Linked DNA regions of Homo sapiens. The protein of the gene in region 1 purifies or fractionates together with the protein of each later gene. This does not show direct contact. Each region holds a gene or a part of one and is shown on either strand. Other genes may lie near its edges.

Region 1 (5,786 bases):
GCTGTAACAAATTGCCACAAGTTTGGTGGCTTAAAACAACACAAACGTATTCTGGTAGAGTTCTGGAAGTCAGAAGTTTGAGATGAGTGTTACAAGACTAAAATCACCGTGTCAGCAATGCTGCATTCCTTCTGGAGACTCTGGAGGAGGGCTCATTTCTTTGCTTTTTCTAGCGGCCTCCTGCATACCTAGGCATGTGGTCCCACTCTCCCTCTTCAAAGCATCTCTGATCTCTGTCTGACTCTGGCCATCCTGTCTACCCCTTATAAGGATGGTTTTGATGATAGGGGACCCACCTGCACAATCCAGGCTAGCTCCCCATCTCAATCGCTTTAATTTCATCATCTCTGCCAATTCTCTTTTGCTATATAAAGGTCACCATATACCCAGATTCTGGGGATTAGAAGGTAGACATCTGGGAGTCGGGGTGAGGGTGATTGGTCTGTCTACCATAATCATTAACATTTTTATCAAGACTAGCTCATTTAACTCATCTAATCCTCACTAAGACCCATTAGGTAAATAAAATTATATCCCCCTTTGGAAACTGAGGCACACGGAAGTTAAGTAACTTGCCCAAGGTCACACAAGCAGTAAGCCGTGAAGAGCGATTCCAACCCAGAAAGTCAGCTTTCGAGTTCACGTGTTCTTTGTTTTTTTTTTTTTTGATCTCGACTCACTGCAACCTCCACCTCCCAGGTTCAAGCGATTCTTCTGCCTCAGCCTCCTGAGTAGCTGGGAATACAGGCGCGCACCACCACGCTCGGCTAATTTTTTTTTTTTCTTGTATTTTCAGCAGAGACGGGGTTTCACCATGTTGGTCAGGCTGGTCTCAAACTCCTGACCTCCTGATCCACCCGCCTCAGCCTCCCAAAGTGCTGGGATTACAGGCGTGAGCCACCGCGCCCGGCCCAGGAGTTCACGTTCTTAAGAGCTGAAATATGTAAAGTGGCCCATAATAAGCACTACATTAATGTTAGCTATTATTCTTGTTATTTCTACTAAGATTAATATAATAATCCTTATCTCGTACGCTCTTTTAAGAACCAACTATTTAACGTGTGAAAAGTGCCAGGCAGCAGGTCCTGGAATTGCAGTTAAGATTCTTCCGGTCCTCCCAATCCACCTTTCCCGAGACGCTCGAGTTCACTTACTTAAGCGTCAGCCTTCCCCAAGATGGCGTTATCTTTGTCGCCAACCCCACATCCGCCCCACCCAATATGGCGTCCATCGCAATCAAAAGCTTTATTCCGCCCTTCTCAAGATGGCGCCCACACCAATCCTTGTTACCTTCCGCCCTCAAGATGACCTTAGCAGTTAGCGTCAACCTCCGCACTCTATGACCTTTCCAAAATGATGGTGAACGTAATACGCACCACACTCTGACCTTCTCAAGATGGCGCTGAGCTGACAAACTCGCGTCGCAAACTCACGCAAACTCAGTGTCGCTGTCGAAGACACTTCCGGTTGCGACGGAGGTAGGCTTACGAGGCCTGTGTCGGGTAGAAAGGGTCCTTCCTGGACCGGGACCCTCTGCCACGACCATGGACCGTAGGAAAAAGCCTTTGGACGTCACGGCCTCCTCGGTGAGTGAGGGTATGAGGTAACTCCACGGGCTCCGGGTTCACCGTGTCTCCATCAGACAAGAATGTCGACCTAGCTTGTTTCTTCACTCGGGGACCCAGAGACCTGACCTCTCCCCTCAAACAGGAACCCCCGAACTGGATTTTCTTCTCCGGCGGGGATCCGGTTCAGTTTTCTTACAGGACCCTGAATTGGGCTACTCTCCTCTGACATGCGCCCGGGCCAGAACCCTCGGACACGGATCTGAACCTGGTGTCCCGTGGGTTAGGAAACTCCGTGCCTCACCTCTGCCCTGCCCACAAGGACCTGCACCTCGTCAGCCTTCTCCCTTACAGTCAGGAGGAACCCTAGCTTCTTTTTGCTATGCAGACATATCCTCTTCCTGGTTTCTCCTCCATCCAGGGACCCACAAAGTCCTCCCAGAACTTTAGAGTGTGACATATTTCGCAGGACCCGAAAGTGTCCAGCGTGCCCTCCCTGGAACTAAACAGTTGTTAATGCAGGCATAGGGAGTTGTGAGGTCTGAAAGGATGTAAGCAGATTTATTACATCAGCTACTCTAGAAAGAAAACTTGTTCTAAGTACACATTTTGTGCCAGCACTTTATATGCACTATCTCATTGAATCCTCCCAATGGCTTTAGGAGGTAGGTGCTATTAATATCTCCGTTTTATGGATGATGAAATTGAGGCCTGGAAAGATGAAGTAGCTTTCCCCAGCTTACAGACAGAAATCTTAGTGATAGCCGGGCGCGGTGACTCACGCCTGTAATCCCAACACTTTGGGAGGCTGAGGCGGGCAGATCACCTGAGGTCGGGAGTTTGAGACCAGTCTGACCAACATGGAGAAACCCCGTCTCTACTAAAAATAAAAAAATTAGCCGGGCGTGGTGGTGCACGCCTGTAATCCCAGCTACTCGGGAAGCTGAGGCAGGAGAATCGCTTGAACCGGGGAGGCGGAGGTTGCGGTGAGCCGAGATCGCGCAATTGCACTCCAACCTGGGCAACAAGAGCGAAACTCCGTCTAAGGGGCGGGGGGCGGGGGGAAGAAATCTTAGTGATAGACCCTTTCTCACTCACTCTACTTGACTCCAAAGCTGCTGCCTTTTCATCATCAGAGCAAATTGCCCAACCTTTGATTTAATCTTGAATTTACTTCAGAGTATTAGGACACAAAGTGAGTAGGAAGGAAAACATATAGGTGTCCCAATATTTGAGTACTAGTTATTATTGGTAACTATTATTGGTTAAAATTGGTACCAGTTATTATTTTGTTTGAAGATCAGGAACCAGAAAGCTATAAATATTAAAGCCAACCTATACTGACAGGTTAGCAGTAATTGTAATAAGAATGCTATTTGAGAATTTACATTTTTTTGAGCATCTCTTAAAGTTAAAGGCAGTTGTAGACTAGGAAGATATGTGGCTGGAAAATTTGGTGTGGTTAAGTAAGCTTAGAAGAAAAAGTAGAAGTTTTTCATTTGTTTTTAAAAATTTCCAGTATTAGGGTCTGCAGTGAAACTGCCCTTTGCATTATTAAATGGTTACCTTTTAAATCGATTTCTTCCAAAACGGAAATTGAACCCAGCCATTTTTATCTTCCTTAACAAATAAAGTGATTTTTTTAAGTATCTGATGATTAAGACAGTGATGAAGTATCTGATTTACAAATGCCCATCCATATAAGCAGCTGTACCTGGACCATTAAAAAGGAAACTGTTGTTATATCCTTTTTTGCAGAGTAGGCAGGGGTAATTAATGTAGCTGAGGGAAAGGTACTAATATTCACCCAACTGCCCCACTCCCTATGCCTTGGCCTTCTTTCCTGTTCTTGAACCGTGTGATTCAGCCAAGCTTACGGTTTTTGAAATGGATTAAGTCAAACGTGGAGCTGTTATAATTCACCCAGTCTATTTTATTTCTAGCTGTTGAAATAATGTGTCTTTAAAGGCTCTGCTCTAAGCTTTCTCTGATCACTCTGCTCAGAAGGAAATGCTCTGTTATCTGAACTTATGTGCTACTTTCTTCCACTCTAGAGTCATTTGTTTTATTTTGTTGGTAGTATAAATTACTTTCCTTGTTACATTGTAGGCTCTTTGAGGCAGAGAGTATGTCTAATTCATGTTTATGTTCTGCTCTTCAGCGTTATTTCTACAGCATTTCACTGTAGAAATAAGTTGTGATGATGAAATGAGTGCAGTGCTAGTCAGAGAGAAGGTGCTTAATAATGCAAGTTTAATCTGAAACTAAAAGATGCAGACTTTATTAATTTATTTTGCTTTATCACTTTCTCCTTGCCTAAGGAAAGCCTCGAGTGTTGAAAGTCAGAGTAAAAATGCATTTGCAGCAGAGGTAGAATGAAACATGACTTAGCTTAATTTGTGTACTGGATTCTACATTTAAACATTTAGTTACTTAAACATTTAGTTTTTTAGCCATATTTGTCCATTTAGCGGAACTTGAAATATTCCTTTGGAAATTATAATAATTTAGCAATCCAGTCACCTGCAGGAATTTAATATTTTTGTTTACTTACTGCTTTCATTCTAGTTGGTAGATCTTAAGGCTGAACTCTTCCGAAAGCAAGAAGAATTCAAACAAGAAAAACTTCTAAAAGATTCTGGAGTTTTTGGAAAACCAAAAACAACTAACAAGGTAAAAAATAAGATCTAATTATCTCCATTGGTTCCAAACATGGGAGAATTATACCATATTTAAGTGTTTTAAAATTGTCAGTGGTATCTGTACACATAAATGTTAAGGAAAAATCTCTATCTTGTATTTAACATCTGCATGAAATGTTATTAAAATAGAAATTAGTAAGATTATATAAAAGTACATAGTAATGTGCTAATTCTTTAGCACTTCTTTTGGAAAAATGTGGATTGTTTACATTTCATAAACAGATGGAAGGTTATCTGGTTCTATAAGTGTTAGGTATCCAAATAGAGATAAACAATTAGATAATATAGGAATATAGCGGAAAATATCAGGGTGTATAAGAGCTGTGAATTTTTCCAGTTTTATAGGTAATAGTGTCTACTATTTGTATTACTAATTCTCTGTAATATGTACATTTTCATTAATCTTGATTTAGGTTGTAATCATTCAGGAGATAAAAGATAGTAGGAAGTGATTCTGCACTCAGGAAGCTCTTTAGGCTGGGCGTGGTTCCCACGCCTCTAATCCCATCTCTTTGGAAGGCCGAGGCAGGCAGATCACTTGACCCCAGGAGTTCGAGACCCGCCTGAGCAACATGGCAAAACCCCGTCTCTACAAAAAAAAATTAGTCAGGCATGGTGGTGCGCACCTGTATTCCCAGCTACTTGGGAAGCTGAGGTGGGAGGATCACTTGAGCCCAGGATGTTGAGGCTGCAGTGAGCTGAGATCGCACCACCACACTCCAGCCTGGGTGACAGAGTGAGATCCTGTCTCAAAGAAAAAAAAAAAAGTTATTTATATAATTGAGGGCTCTTTTTTTAGCTCCTGCTTGCCATGTATAGTCAGTATCTTTGTAGGACACAGCTTATCTAGTTATCTCCATTGATTCATAAGAACTCATGATCTCCTTTGTTTTTTTTTTTCCTGATGCACAAGTAGAGATTTTTTGGCAATCATGTGGTTCTGTTTTGTCTTCTAAAATTATTCTCCAGAAACCAAGTATCTGGAGCAAACAGAATGTAGGCGTTTCAAATCGAGCTGAGAAGGATGCTGAACAGAAGATTGAAGAACAGAAGACTTTAGACAAAGCAAGGTAAAGTTATAAGCTCTGGTAAATATAGTTAGCTTTGAGGCTACCCAGGCAGAGAAATGGAAGTTCAAATTTTGTCCTTTTTGATTTACAAATTTTATTTTTAACATCCTTCTAGCCCAATGCTCTAAGTACTCTAAAAATAATATAATTTGCAGATATATCTGTAGTCTTATAAAAAGGTAAAACATAGTCACAGTTTATAAGATGAAACATTCTTGCTGTCAGCCTTTGTTAGACACTAAGATTATCAATACATTTTTAAGAGGTTTTCCCATGGTGTGGGCTAGGTGGGATGACACTAGAATTTAGAAACCCTAAACTTCCCCCCCACCTTTTATTTTGAAAAACTTCAAGGGTACATAGAACATTCTAATATTCTTCACCTAAATTCCCCAGTTAACATCTTGTCACATGTGCTTTCCCTCTCTCTCTCTTACACACACACACGC
Region 2 (5,202 bases), on another chromosome or scaffold:
TTTATTATTATTATTGTTATTATTATTATTTTTTGAGATGGAGTTTCACTCTTGTTACCCAGGCTGGAGTGCAATGGCACAATCTTGGCTCACTACAGCCTCGCCTCCTGGGTTCAAGCGATTCTCCTGCCTCAGCCTCCTGAGTAGCTGGGATTAGAGGCATGCACCACCACGCCCGGCTAATTTTGTATATTTAGTAGACACAGGGTTTCTCCATGTTGGTCAGGCTGGTCTCGAACTCCCGACCTCAGGAGATCTGCCTGCCTTGGCCTCCCAAAGTGCTGGGATTACAGGCGTGAGTCACCGTGCCCGGTCCCACTCATGAACTTTTAAAGTCAGATAGTTCTGGCCTCAAAATCTGCCTCTGGCACTTACTCCCCTAGGAATCTGGGGGAAAATCACACCAGCCTGAGCCTCAGTGTGCTGTGCCATAAAATACAGAGAATCAAACCTCTGAACAGGGCTATAGTGAAGACTAAAGAAGGCAAGGCTGACGAGACCCAAACGCTCAGCTCGAGGCTGGCCCAGGGAAGTGGTTGGCAAGTGGCTGTCATGAGGAGTGACAAGGGTGAATTGTGGGTTTCACACAGGTTGAAAATCAGCAACTCCCTCATCCTGGATGTCAAAGCTGAACCGATCGATGATGGCAAAGGCCTTAACCTGAGCTTCCCTGTCACCGCGAATGTCACTGTGGCCGGGTGAGTATGCACTAGAATCTGAGATTTGGGAAAGGCAGTGCAACCTGGCCGATGGATGCCCAACCTGGGAATCGGGCACCTCCTCCCGCTGCTGGGTGAACTTGGGCCTCAGTTTCCCAATCTGTGAGTGAGAGAACCCTTCTGGGTCTAAGATCTTAACCCTTAAAATGTTCTAGAGAACTCTGGCCATAAGCAAGTGTCTTTTAAAAACAATGCTCCATTGAATATAGTTTTGAAATCATGACATTTATCTGGTTTTAAAATTTGAAAAGTTGAGATAACAAACATTTATCATTCTTTGGCAAAATTTCCTCCAGCATTATTTTGTCCCTCAAGATTCTCTCTAAGTTGCAGTGACCACTACAGAAAAATTCATACAATAATACACAGTGTATAATAAAGTGTGTGTGTGCAAAATATAAGTTTAAACTCTTTTAAGTTTAGCTGGGAGTGGTGGCTTATACCTGTAATCCCAGCAATTTGAGAAACTGAGGTGGGAGGATTGCTTGAGCTCAGGAGTTCGTGACCAGCCAGGACAATATGACAAAACCCTGTCTCTACAAAAAATACAAAAATTAACCAGGTGTGGCAGCACACGCCTGTAGTCCCAGCTACTTGGGAGGCTGAGGCAAGAGGATTGCTTGAGCCGGAGAGGTCGAGGCTGCAGTGAGCCGTGATTGCACCACTGCATTCCAGCCTGGGCGACAGAGTGAGACCCTGTCTCACAAAAAATAAAAAATTTTAATTTTAAAGGAGATAGACAAGAAATGAGCATGTGTGAAAGCACTTCTGTAAACTACATGCACTAATGATGCCACCCATTATTTAGCTATGAGATCTTGGGATAGTTACTTAACCTCTCTGTACCAAGGTTTCCTCATTCAGAAAATAGGGATAGTAATAAATGAATCCAGGTAAAATACTTTTTTAAAGTACCTACACATAAATTGTTGTCAATAAATGTTAACTATTATTATTTTACTTATTAGTGTAATGTTGTATAAAAAATTCATATGAGCTAAACCCAAGTGGCCAGGAGAAGAAGCCCCTAATATAAACATGTAAATCTCATAGAGGATATGGACCATGTTGATATTACCTGGGCCATGTTGACATTACACATAGACATTCTGACTCATGTCCACACAGGTGGAGGAACCCAACTGGGCAACAGGCAGGAACTTCTAGACTTTGTTCACTGTGCATCTTACTTCCTGCAGGCCCATCATTGGCCAGATTATCAACCTGAAAGCCTCCTTGGACCTCCTGACCGCAGTCACAATTGAAACTGATCCCCAGACACACCAGCCTGTTGCCGTCCTGGGAGAATGCGCCAGTGACCCAACCAGCATCTCACTTTCCTTGCTGGACAAGTAAGTCCCATTCATCTTAGTAGAGCTGGGCTCTCAGGGAACTTGAGGACCCCTAATTTCAGCTCTAGTCCTCTACCTAAGAGGAGGCCTAGTGGTGAAAGTGTTCAGGCTCTGGAGTCATGTTGACCTTGGTTTACACATCAGCTCTGCCACTAACTTGTAACTTTATCACCAACTTGACCCAGGCCTGTTTTCACATCTGTAAACTGGGGGTGTTCATAATAACTACTCATAGGCTTCTGAGATGACCAGATGAGAAAATACAAATATTTAGCACGCAGCCTGGAACATGCTGCCTCTCTGCCTGCTGGTTCTCTCCATTACTGAGACTGGAGTGTTGAGCTCCCCACCATAATCATGGATTTGTTCATTTCGCCTTTCAACTCGGTCAGTTTCTGCTTCATACCCTTTGGAGCTCTGTTGTTAGGTGCATGCACATTAGGATTGTTATGACTTCTTGGAGAATTGTCCACTTTATTGTTATGTAATGTCCCTCAATAATAATAATAATAATAACGATAAAATTATATTTACCTTCTTGCCTCCAGTTGGGAGGGAGAGGGGAGAGTAAGTGCCTGCCACGGGCTCTAATTTCAGATTGTCCCCAAATCATCCTCCACCCAGTGGAAATTTCCTGAAAGGAGATCTTGAAAACTTAATCCTCTCCATTTGACTCACTGATCCCTTTTAATCCACAAAATCTACATCTTAAGCTCTGTGCCTGAAAGAGCAGGTTTGACTCAGGCAAGAGGGTGGAAGGAGAAAGAGTGATGCTGGCCGATGGCTGGGAGAGGATGAATGACCCAGAAGCTGAGGGCTGGGGCTACTTGGCCTTGGCCAGGAGCAAGGCTGGGTCCTCAGCTCTCAGCCCCTGTGGCCATGAGCAGAGGACACTCCACTCGCCCTGCACTGAGGGATCTGAACACAGGTTGCTCAAAGACCCCTGAAAACCAAAGAAAGTTTCCATAGCCTGATGTGAGTTGCGAAGGCCGGGGTGTAAATTCAGAGGCTGGAGCCTGGCTGGGTGCTATCTTCCCAAGTAGCCTCAGGGACGCCATCCTGCTGCACTAGGTCTGTGCCCACATCTGTGAGATGGCACCACTCTGAGGCTCCAGATCCTCCCAGGGTCTTTCTTTGCACTTGTGGTTCAATCCCAAGTGCTCCCCATGGTCATGAAGGCTCTGTTTGATCTGGCCCCACCCTTGTATCCCTGTACCCTCCCCTTACTCACTGTGCCCAGATACAGTGGCCTTTGTGCCATGTCTCAGATAGGCTGTTTCTCAAGGCTCTTTCCCAGCTTAAGACCTTTGCCTGGGGTGCTCTGGCTACCTAGAGCACCTTCTTCTCACTCCACTTTGATGGACTTTTGCATCCTTCAGGGCCTTCCCAGGGCTCCTCCTATTCTCTCTCGTAAGAGTCTAACTCTTGCCTTTAAAGCACTCGTCACAAGTTCTCAATATATATTTAATTGTATGTTCACTTCTTTCATTCTTTCAGCCAAAAATGTATTGAGGCTGGGCACGATGGCTCCACACCGGTAATCCCAGCACTTTGGGAGGCTGAGGTGGGTGGATCACTTGAGGTCAGGAGTTCAAGACCAGCTTGGCCAACATGGCAAAATCCTGTCTCTACTAAAAATACAAAAATTAGCCGGGGGTGGTGGCGGTTTCCTGTAATCCCAGCTACTCGGGACGCTGAGGCACAAGCATTGCTTGAACCCAGGAGGCAGAGGTTGCAGTGAGCCGAGATCGTGCCACTGCACTCCAGTCTGGGTGACAGAGCAAGACATTGTCTCAAAAAAAAAAAAAAAAGTGTATTGAGCATCTGCTGTGTGCCAGGCAGGCACCATTCTGGGCTCTGGAGAACTGATTGGTGATGACAGACAAGGTCCCTGTTCTTGCGGAGCTTACCCAAGGGAAAGCTAAGCTGCCGTGGATCTGTGTCCACATCTGTGAAATGACACCACTCTACAGCTCCAAATCCTCTCAGCGCTTTTCTTTGCACTTTGGATCCAATCCAACCCAAATTCAGTCCATCGGTAAAGAACGCTCCAGGGAAATGAGTCCTGCAGAAAGCATTACCCTTAACTGGGCACTGTGATAGCAAAGCTCTCTCTTAGGTAAGCAGTCAGGGAGGGGTGCCCTGAGGAGGTGGCAATTATACTAAGAGTTGAAGGTGGGAGGAGCCAACTTTGGCAAGATTTGTTTAGGTACCACATCAGGGTATGTTTGGACCCTTAATGTTTAGGTACCAGGTTAGGGGATGTTTGTACTTTACTTATTCGGTATCCTCAGGGCCCAGCTAGGTTCCTGGTGCATAGCTGGTGCTCTGTAAATACGGGTTGAATGAGTGAACGAATAAGGTCTCTGCGCTGAGAATCTCATGAGGCACTGGGGTGAGCCGCTGGTCAGATGTGGGAGTCTAAGTGATGATCCATGTGGATGGGAGGCTCTGTCTGTTAAAGTGTCTCCATGTCCCTGGGGTTTATCTGACTCCACAGTATTTCCCGCACCGCCCCCAACTTTTTGGCAGTTCTCCCATCTCTTGCCCACTTGACCAGACTTTAATAGTTCCCTGTGTTTTCCAGACACAGCCAAATCATCAACAAGTTCGTGAATAGCGTGATCAACACGCTGAAAAGCACTGTATCCTCCCTGCTGCAGAAGGAGGTGAGTCTCCCACTCCTTGGAGCCCAGATCCAGGCCTGGTGGGGGCAGGTGGGGGAATTTGCAGGCCTGGCTGTATCCTCTGAGCACTTTTCCTTCGGAGGTGAAAGCTTCTCCTTAGGAGGTCAGCTGGAGCTTCCTCCTCTACTAATCAGCCTGGTGGGTAGCAGGGTAGAGCAGAGGCCTGACATTAGCTGAAATTGCCAGGTCCCAAACTTGAGCCTCTCACCATATCCACGCACTACCAATATGCTTTTGTAGCTAACATCTTCAACACAATTTTACTTAAATATGTTTCTTTAGAAGCATTTATTTTTAAAAATAAAACTTTATATCCCTATCATAAATAGAAAATTAATATCACATATCATACAATCAATGGACTTATAAAATAGTTTTAATTTTTTTTCCATCTGTGCATCATCCAAAACCATAGGTACCATGTGCAGGATTACTAGGCCCAAA
Region 3 (5,202 bases), on another chromosome or scaffold:
TGCCACTGCACTCCAGCCTGGCGACAGAGTGAGACTCCATCTCAAAAAAAAAAAAAAAAAAGGTAAAGGCTAGGCACGATAGCTTACACCTGTAATCCCAGCATTTTGGGAGGCTGAGGCAGGCGGATCACCTGAGGTCAGGAGTTTGAGACCAGCCTGGCCAACATGGTGAAACCTCATCTCTACTAAAAGTACAAAAATCAGCTGAGCGTGGTGGCGGGCACCTACATTCCCAGCTACTCGGGAGACCGAGGCAGGAGAGTCACTTGAACCCAGGAGGCAGAGGTTGCAGTGAACCAAGATCATGCCACTGCACTCCACCTGGGTGACCGTGAGACGCCATCAAAAAAAAAAGAAAGAGGAAAGAAAGAACGAACGAACGAAAGAAAGAAAAGGTAAAATCCCTACTTAAATAATTCACAACCTAGTGATTGGGAGGAAATCAAGGAAGACCTTGTAGAGAAGGTGACACTTGAACTAGACTTTGAAGAATGAACTGGGCTTCATAGGTAGAAAAAAAAATGCAGGCTCAAAAAAGTGCATGACATTTTTGGAACAGCAAGTCATCCAGTGTGGTTAGACTGTAGGAAACTAACTCTGAAAAGACATTGTCAGTTACATCTTGGGTTTGCCTTGACTTTTACTGGAAAATTCCACAGACTTAAGAGAAAAATTAAAATGGACAATTTCCAGGAAAAATCCACTAAACTATTATACATAAGATGTAGCTACAATAAATTACACTTCTGGGTATAATACTTGTTTATGTTTGCATATCATTAATGATCATAGATGACTTATGCCAATTTTAATAGATTAGGTAGTAATTTTTTGTCATTATATTTAATTTTGAATATACTGTAAGAATCCTCTCCAATGAAGTACACATGTCAAATCATCTGGTAATGATTTCATTATGTGTAGGAAAATAAAACATGCTTTAATGCTGTGTGCGGTGGCTCACGCCTGTAACCCCAGCACTTTGGGAGGCCGAGGCGGGCGGATCACGAGGTCAGGAGATTGAGACCATCCTGGCTAACATGGTGAAACCCTGTCTCTACTAAAAAAAATATACAAAAACTAGGCCGGGTGCAGTGGCTCACGCCTGTAATCCCAGCACTTTGGGAGGCTGAGGTGGGCGGATCACGAGGTCAGGAGATCGAGACCATCCTGGCTAACACGATGAAACCCCGTCTCTACTAAAAAATACAAAAAAAATAAGCTGGGCGTGGTGGCGGGTGCCTATAGTCCTAGCTACTCGGGAGGCTGAGGCAGGAGAATGGTGTGAACCCGGGAGGCGGAGCTTGCAGTGAGCTGAGATTGCTCCACTGCACTCCAGCCTGGGCGACAGAGCAAGACTCTGTCTCAAAACAAACAAAAAACATGTTTTAATAAGTTACCTGGAAAGTTTTGTGGTTTGTTTTTTGTTTTTTGTTTTTTTTTGAGTAGGAGTCTCACTCTGTCTCCCAGGCTGGAGTGCAGTGTCACAATCTCAGCTCACTGCAACCTCTGCCTCCAAGGCTTGGATGATTCTCCCACCTCAGCCCGCCAAGTAGCTGGGACTACAAGCACACACCACCATGCCCAGCTAATATTTTAATTTATTGTAGAGACGGGGTTTCGCCGTGTCGGCCAGGCTGGTCTGTAACTCCTGGTCTCAAGTGATCTGCCTGCCTTAGCCTCCTAAAGTGCTGGGATTACAGGTGTGAGACACCATGCCTGGCCCCAGTCAATAGGATATTTAATGAAACTTGACATACTGATTGTTAAATTCATCTGGAAGAGAAAGTGCACAAGAAGAGCCAAGAATTTTGGGGAGGAGAAAACAATAAAGGCAAGTCATTATCAGTTATCGAGATATATCAGTGATAAAGCCATAATAATGTAAATAGCAAGAAATGTTGCCTGAGGGCTGGACACAGTGGCTCATGCCTGTAATCCCAGCATTTTAGGAGGCCAAGGCCAACATGGCGAAACACTGTCTCTACTAAAAATACCAAAAAAAAAAAAAAAAAAAAAGGCAGATGTGGTGGCACACCTGTAATCCTAGCTACTCAGGAGGCTGAGGCAGGAGAATCACTTGAGCCCAGGATGTGGAGGTTGCAGTGAGCTGAGATCACATCACTGCACTCCAGCCTACTGCACTCCAGCCTGGGTGACAGAGCGATACTCTGTGTCAAAAAAAAAAGAAAAAAAAAAAAGCCAAGTGGGGTGCCTCATGCCTGTAATCCTAGCACTTTGGGAGGCTGGGGTGAGTGGATCATTTGAGGTCAGGAGTTCAAGACCGACCTGGCCAATATGGCAAAACCACATTTCTACTAAAAATACAAAAATTAGCCGGACGTGGTGGCACGCACTCAAGAGGCTGAGGCAGGAGAATTGCTGAAACCCAGGAGGTGGAGGTTGCAGTGAGCCGAAATCGTGCCACCGCACTCCAGTCGGGGCGACAGAGCAAGACTCAGTCTAAAAAAAAAAGAAGTGATTCCTTAGGAACAGAAAATTATCAATGACTAGCCAATTGCCCTAATACCCTTTACTAGTCAGTCTTTTATTTATTAATCAATATGCCACCTTTATTGTAGACCAAATTCTCCTGGATCAATAAATAAAAGACTGATTAGTAAAGGGTGTTTTTGAAAGGAAAGTTAGACCCCTACTTCAAAGCATAACAAAAAATGTTGCAGGTGGCTTTTGTCTGCAGCTAGAAAACAAAAATTTGTAAAAGTCTTGAATATAAAGATGTATAAATCTTGAGATGGTTAGGGCCTGCCTTCATGGGTCACAAAACGAAGAAGATTTAAAGGAGAAGATAGATTTGTCTATTAAAAAATAATAATTTGCCATGACAAAAAAACATAAAATTTAGTCAGGAGACGAAATAATATTTGCAATTACAAAGGCTTCATTGCTTGATCTTAGGAGGTCAAAGCTGCATGAGCCATGATCATGCCACTGCACTCCAGCCTGGGTGACAGAGCAAGACCCTGTCTCAAAAAAGCCAAAGGCTTTGTATCCATGTTATAAATCAGTAAGAGAAAGATAACCCAGCAGAAAGATGGTCACATTTCCAAAGAAGAAATTCATATTAAAAGATGTTCATCAGCTGGGCTTGTGGGCTTACACCTATAATCCCAGCATTTTGGGAGGCTGAGGTGGGAGGATCTCTTGAGCCCAGTTCAAGACCAGCTTGGGCAACATGGGAGACCCCATCTCTACAAAAAAATAAATTAGCCAGGTGTGGTGGTGTGTGCCTGTGTTTGCAGCTACTCAGGAGGCAGAGGTGGGAAGATGGCTTGAGCTCGAGAGGTTGAGGCTATAGTGAGCTATGATTGTGCCACTGTGCTTCAGCCTAGGCAACAGAGTGAGACCCTATCTCAAAAAAAAGTTCATGCTCACAAGTAATTAGGTCAATATACATAAGACCAATAAGATAATATCTGGAGTGTTTGGGGCTATAATGATTCATTTTATAAAGCAAAGTCACATTTGATCTACATATATATATATATTTCCATTTACCAAATTTGTTTAGAGTAAGATAGACCAATAATGAAGACTTCTAATTAATATGTCAAGTCACATAAAGAGGACTTTCAGGTATTTTTGTGGGGTGTTATTACTATATGAGTTTAAACTTTTATATCTAAATTAAGATTTTCTTTGTTTAACTATCTTTCATATACCTGTAGCTTTTTTTTTTTTTTTTTTTTTTTTGAGTCAGGGTCTCGCTCTGTCAACCAGGCCAGAGTGGAGTGGCAAGATCATGGCTCACTGCAACCTCAAATTCCTGGGCTCAAGCAGTCCTCTCACCTAAGCCTCCTGAGTAGGTGGGACTAGAGGCATCCGCCACCATGCCTAGCTAAGATTGTCTATTCTTTGTAGAGATGAAGTCTCACTATATTGGCCAGGCTGGTCTCGAACTCCTGGGCTCAAGCAATCCTCCCACCTCAGGCTCCCAAAGTGTTGAGATTACAGACATGCGTGAGCCACTGCACCCAGCTGCCTTTTTTTTTTTCTGAAATGTAGTCTCACTCTGTTGCCCAAGCTGGAGTGCAGTGGCGTGATCTCAGCTCACTGCAACCTCTGCCTCCCAGGTTCAAGCAAGCCTGCTGCCTCAGCCTCCCAAATAGCTGGGACTACAGGTAATTTTTTTTTCTTTTTTTTTTTTTGAGCCTGAGTCTTGCTCTGTCGCCCAGGCAGGAGTGCAGTGGCGTGATCTCGGCTCACTGCAAGCTCTGCCTCCCGCGTTCACACCATTCTCCTGCCTCAGCCTCCCAAGTAGCTGGGACTACAGGCGCCTGCCACCACGCCTGCCTAATTTTTTATATTTTTAGGAGAGACGGGGTTTCACCGTGTTAGCCGGGATGGTCTCAATCTCCTGACTTCATGATCCGCCCACCTCAGCCTCCCAAAGTGCTGGGATTACAGGCGTGAGCACCGTGCCTGGCCTTTTTTTCTCTTTAGAGATGGGGTTTCCCCCATGTTGCTCAGGCTGGTCTTGAACTCCTGACCTCAGGTGATCCACCCACCTCGGCTTCCAAAAGTGCTGGGGTTACAGGCGTGAGCCACCACATCCGGCCTTTTTTGTATTTTTAGTAGAGATGGGGTTTCACCATGTTAGCCAGGATGGTCTTGATCTCCTGACCTTGTGATCCACCCGCCTCGGCCTCCCAAAGTGCTGGGATTACAGGCCTGAGCCACCGGCGCCTGGCCGCAGCTGCATATTTTTAATTGCACTAGGGACTGGGTGTGGTGGCTTATGCCTATAATCCCACCTCTTTGGTAGTCCAAGATGGGAGGGTCACTTTAGGCCAGATGTTCCGAGACCAGCCTGGGCAACATAGTGAGACTCTGTCTCTACAAAAAATAAAACTTAAAAAAATTGCACTGGTATGTTAATTTCATATGGTATGTGGGTTTATTGTTTCACATAGAGATTAAAATGGCTTCCAGAGGAAAGACAGAGACAAGCAAATTAAAGCAGAATTTAGAAGAACAGTTGGATAGACTCATGCAACAATTACAAGATCTGGAGGAATGCAGGTAAGAGTTTAATTGTATGTTGTTATGCTGGAAACTGGCGTTTTTTCTGCAGCTAGCTCCGTGGATGCAGGCCCATGTGTGATGATTCTGCATTCCCCTGTAGTGTTCTTTGCAGTGCTTTGTCTATTAGAGAAGTAAACTTATTGCAGGCTTTGGAGT

What was found.
Region 2: the proteins of CCDC174 (region 1) and BPIFA2 purify together in Homo sapiens (affinity purification with mass spectrometry; one large-scale study listed by BioGRID and IntAct). This does not show direct contact.
Region 3: the proteins of CCDC174 (region 1) and LZIC fractionate together in Homo sapiens (co-fractionation; one large-scale study listed by BioGRID). This does not show direct contact.

Annotation. Positions count from the first base shown.
Region 1 is NC_000003.12:14,650,293-14,656,078, forward strand, and holds the start of CCDC174 (coiled-coil domain-containing protein 174), read left to right. Parts: upstream 1-1,469; 5' UTR 1,470-1,544; coding exon 1,545-1,586; exon of another isoform or gene 1,587-1,829; intron 1,830-4,133; coding exon 4,134-4,238; intron 4,239-5,236; coding exon 5,237-5,337; intron 5,338-5,786. UniProt on the Homo sapiens protein: Probably involved in neuronal development.
Region 2 is NC_000020.11:33,173,489-33,178,690, forward strand, and holds part of BPIFA2 (BPI fold-containing family A member 2 precursor), read left to right. Parts: intron 1-590; coding exon 591-698; intron 699-1,918; coding exon 1,919-2,071; intron 2,072-4,658; coding exon 4,659-4,740; intron 4,741-5,202. UniProt on the Homo sapiens protein: Has strong antibacterial activity against P.aeruginosa.
Region 3 is NC_000001.11:9,936,360-9,941,561, reverse strand, and holds part of LZIC (protein LZIC), read left to right. Parts: intron 1-4,934; coding exon of another isoform or gene 4,935-4,942; coding exon 4,943-5,043; intron 5,044-5,202.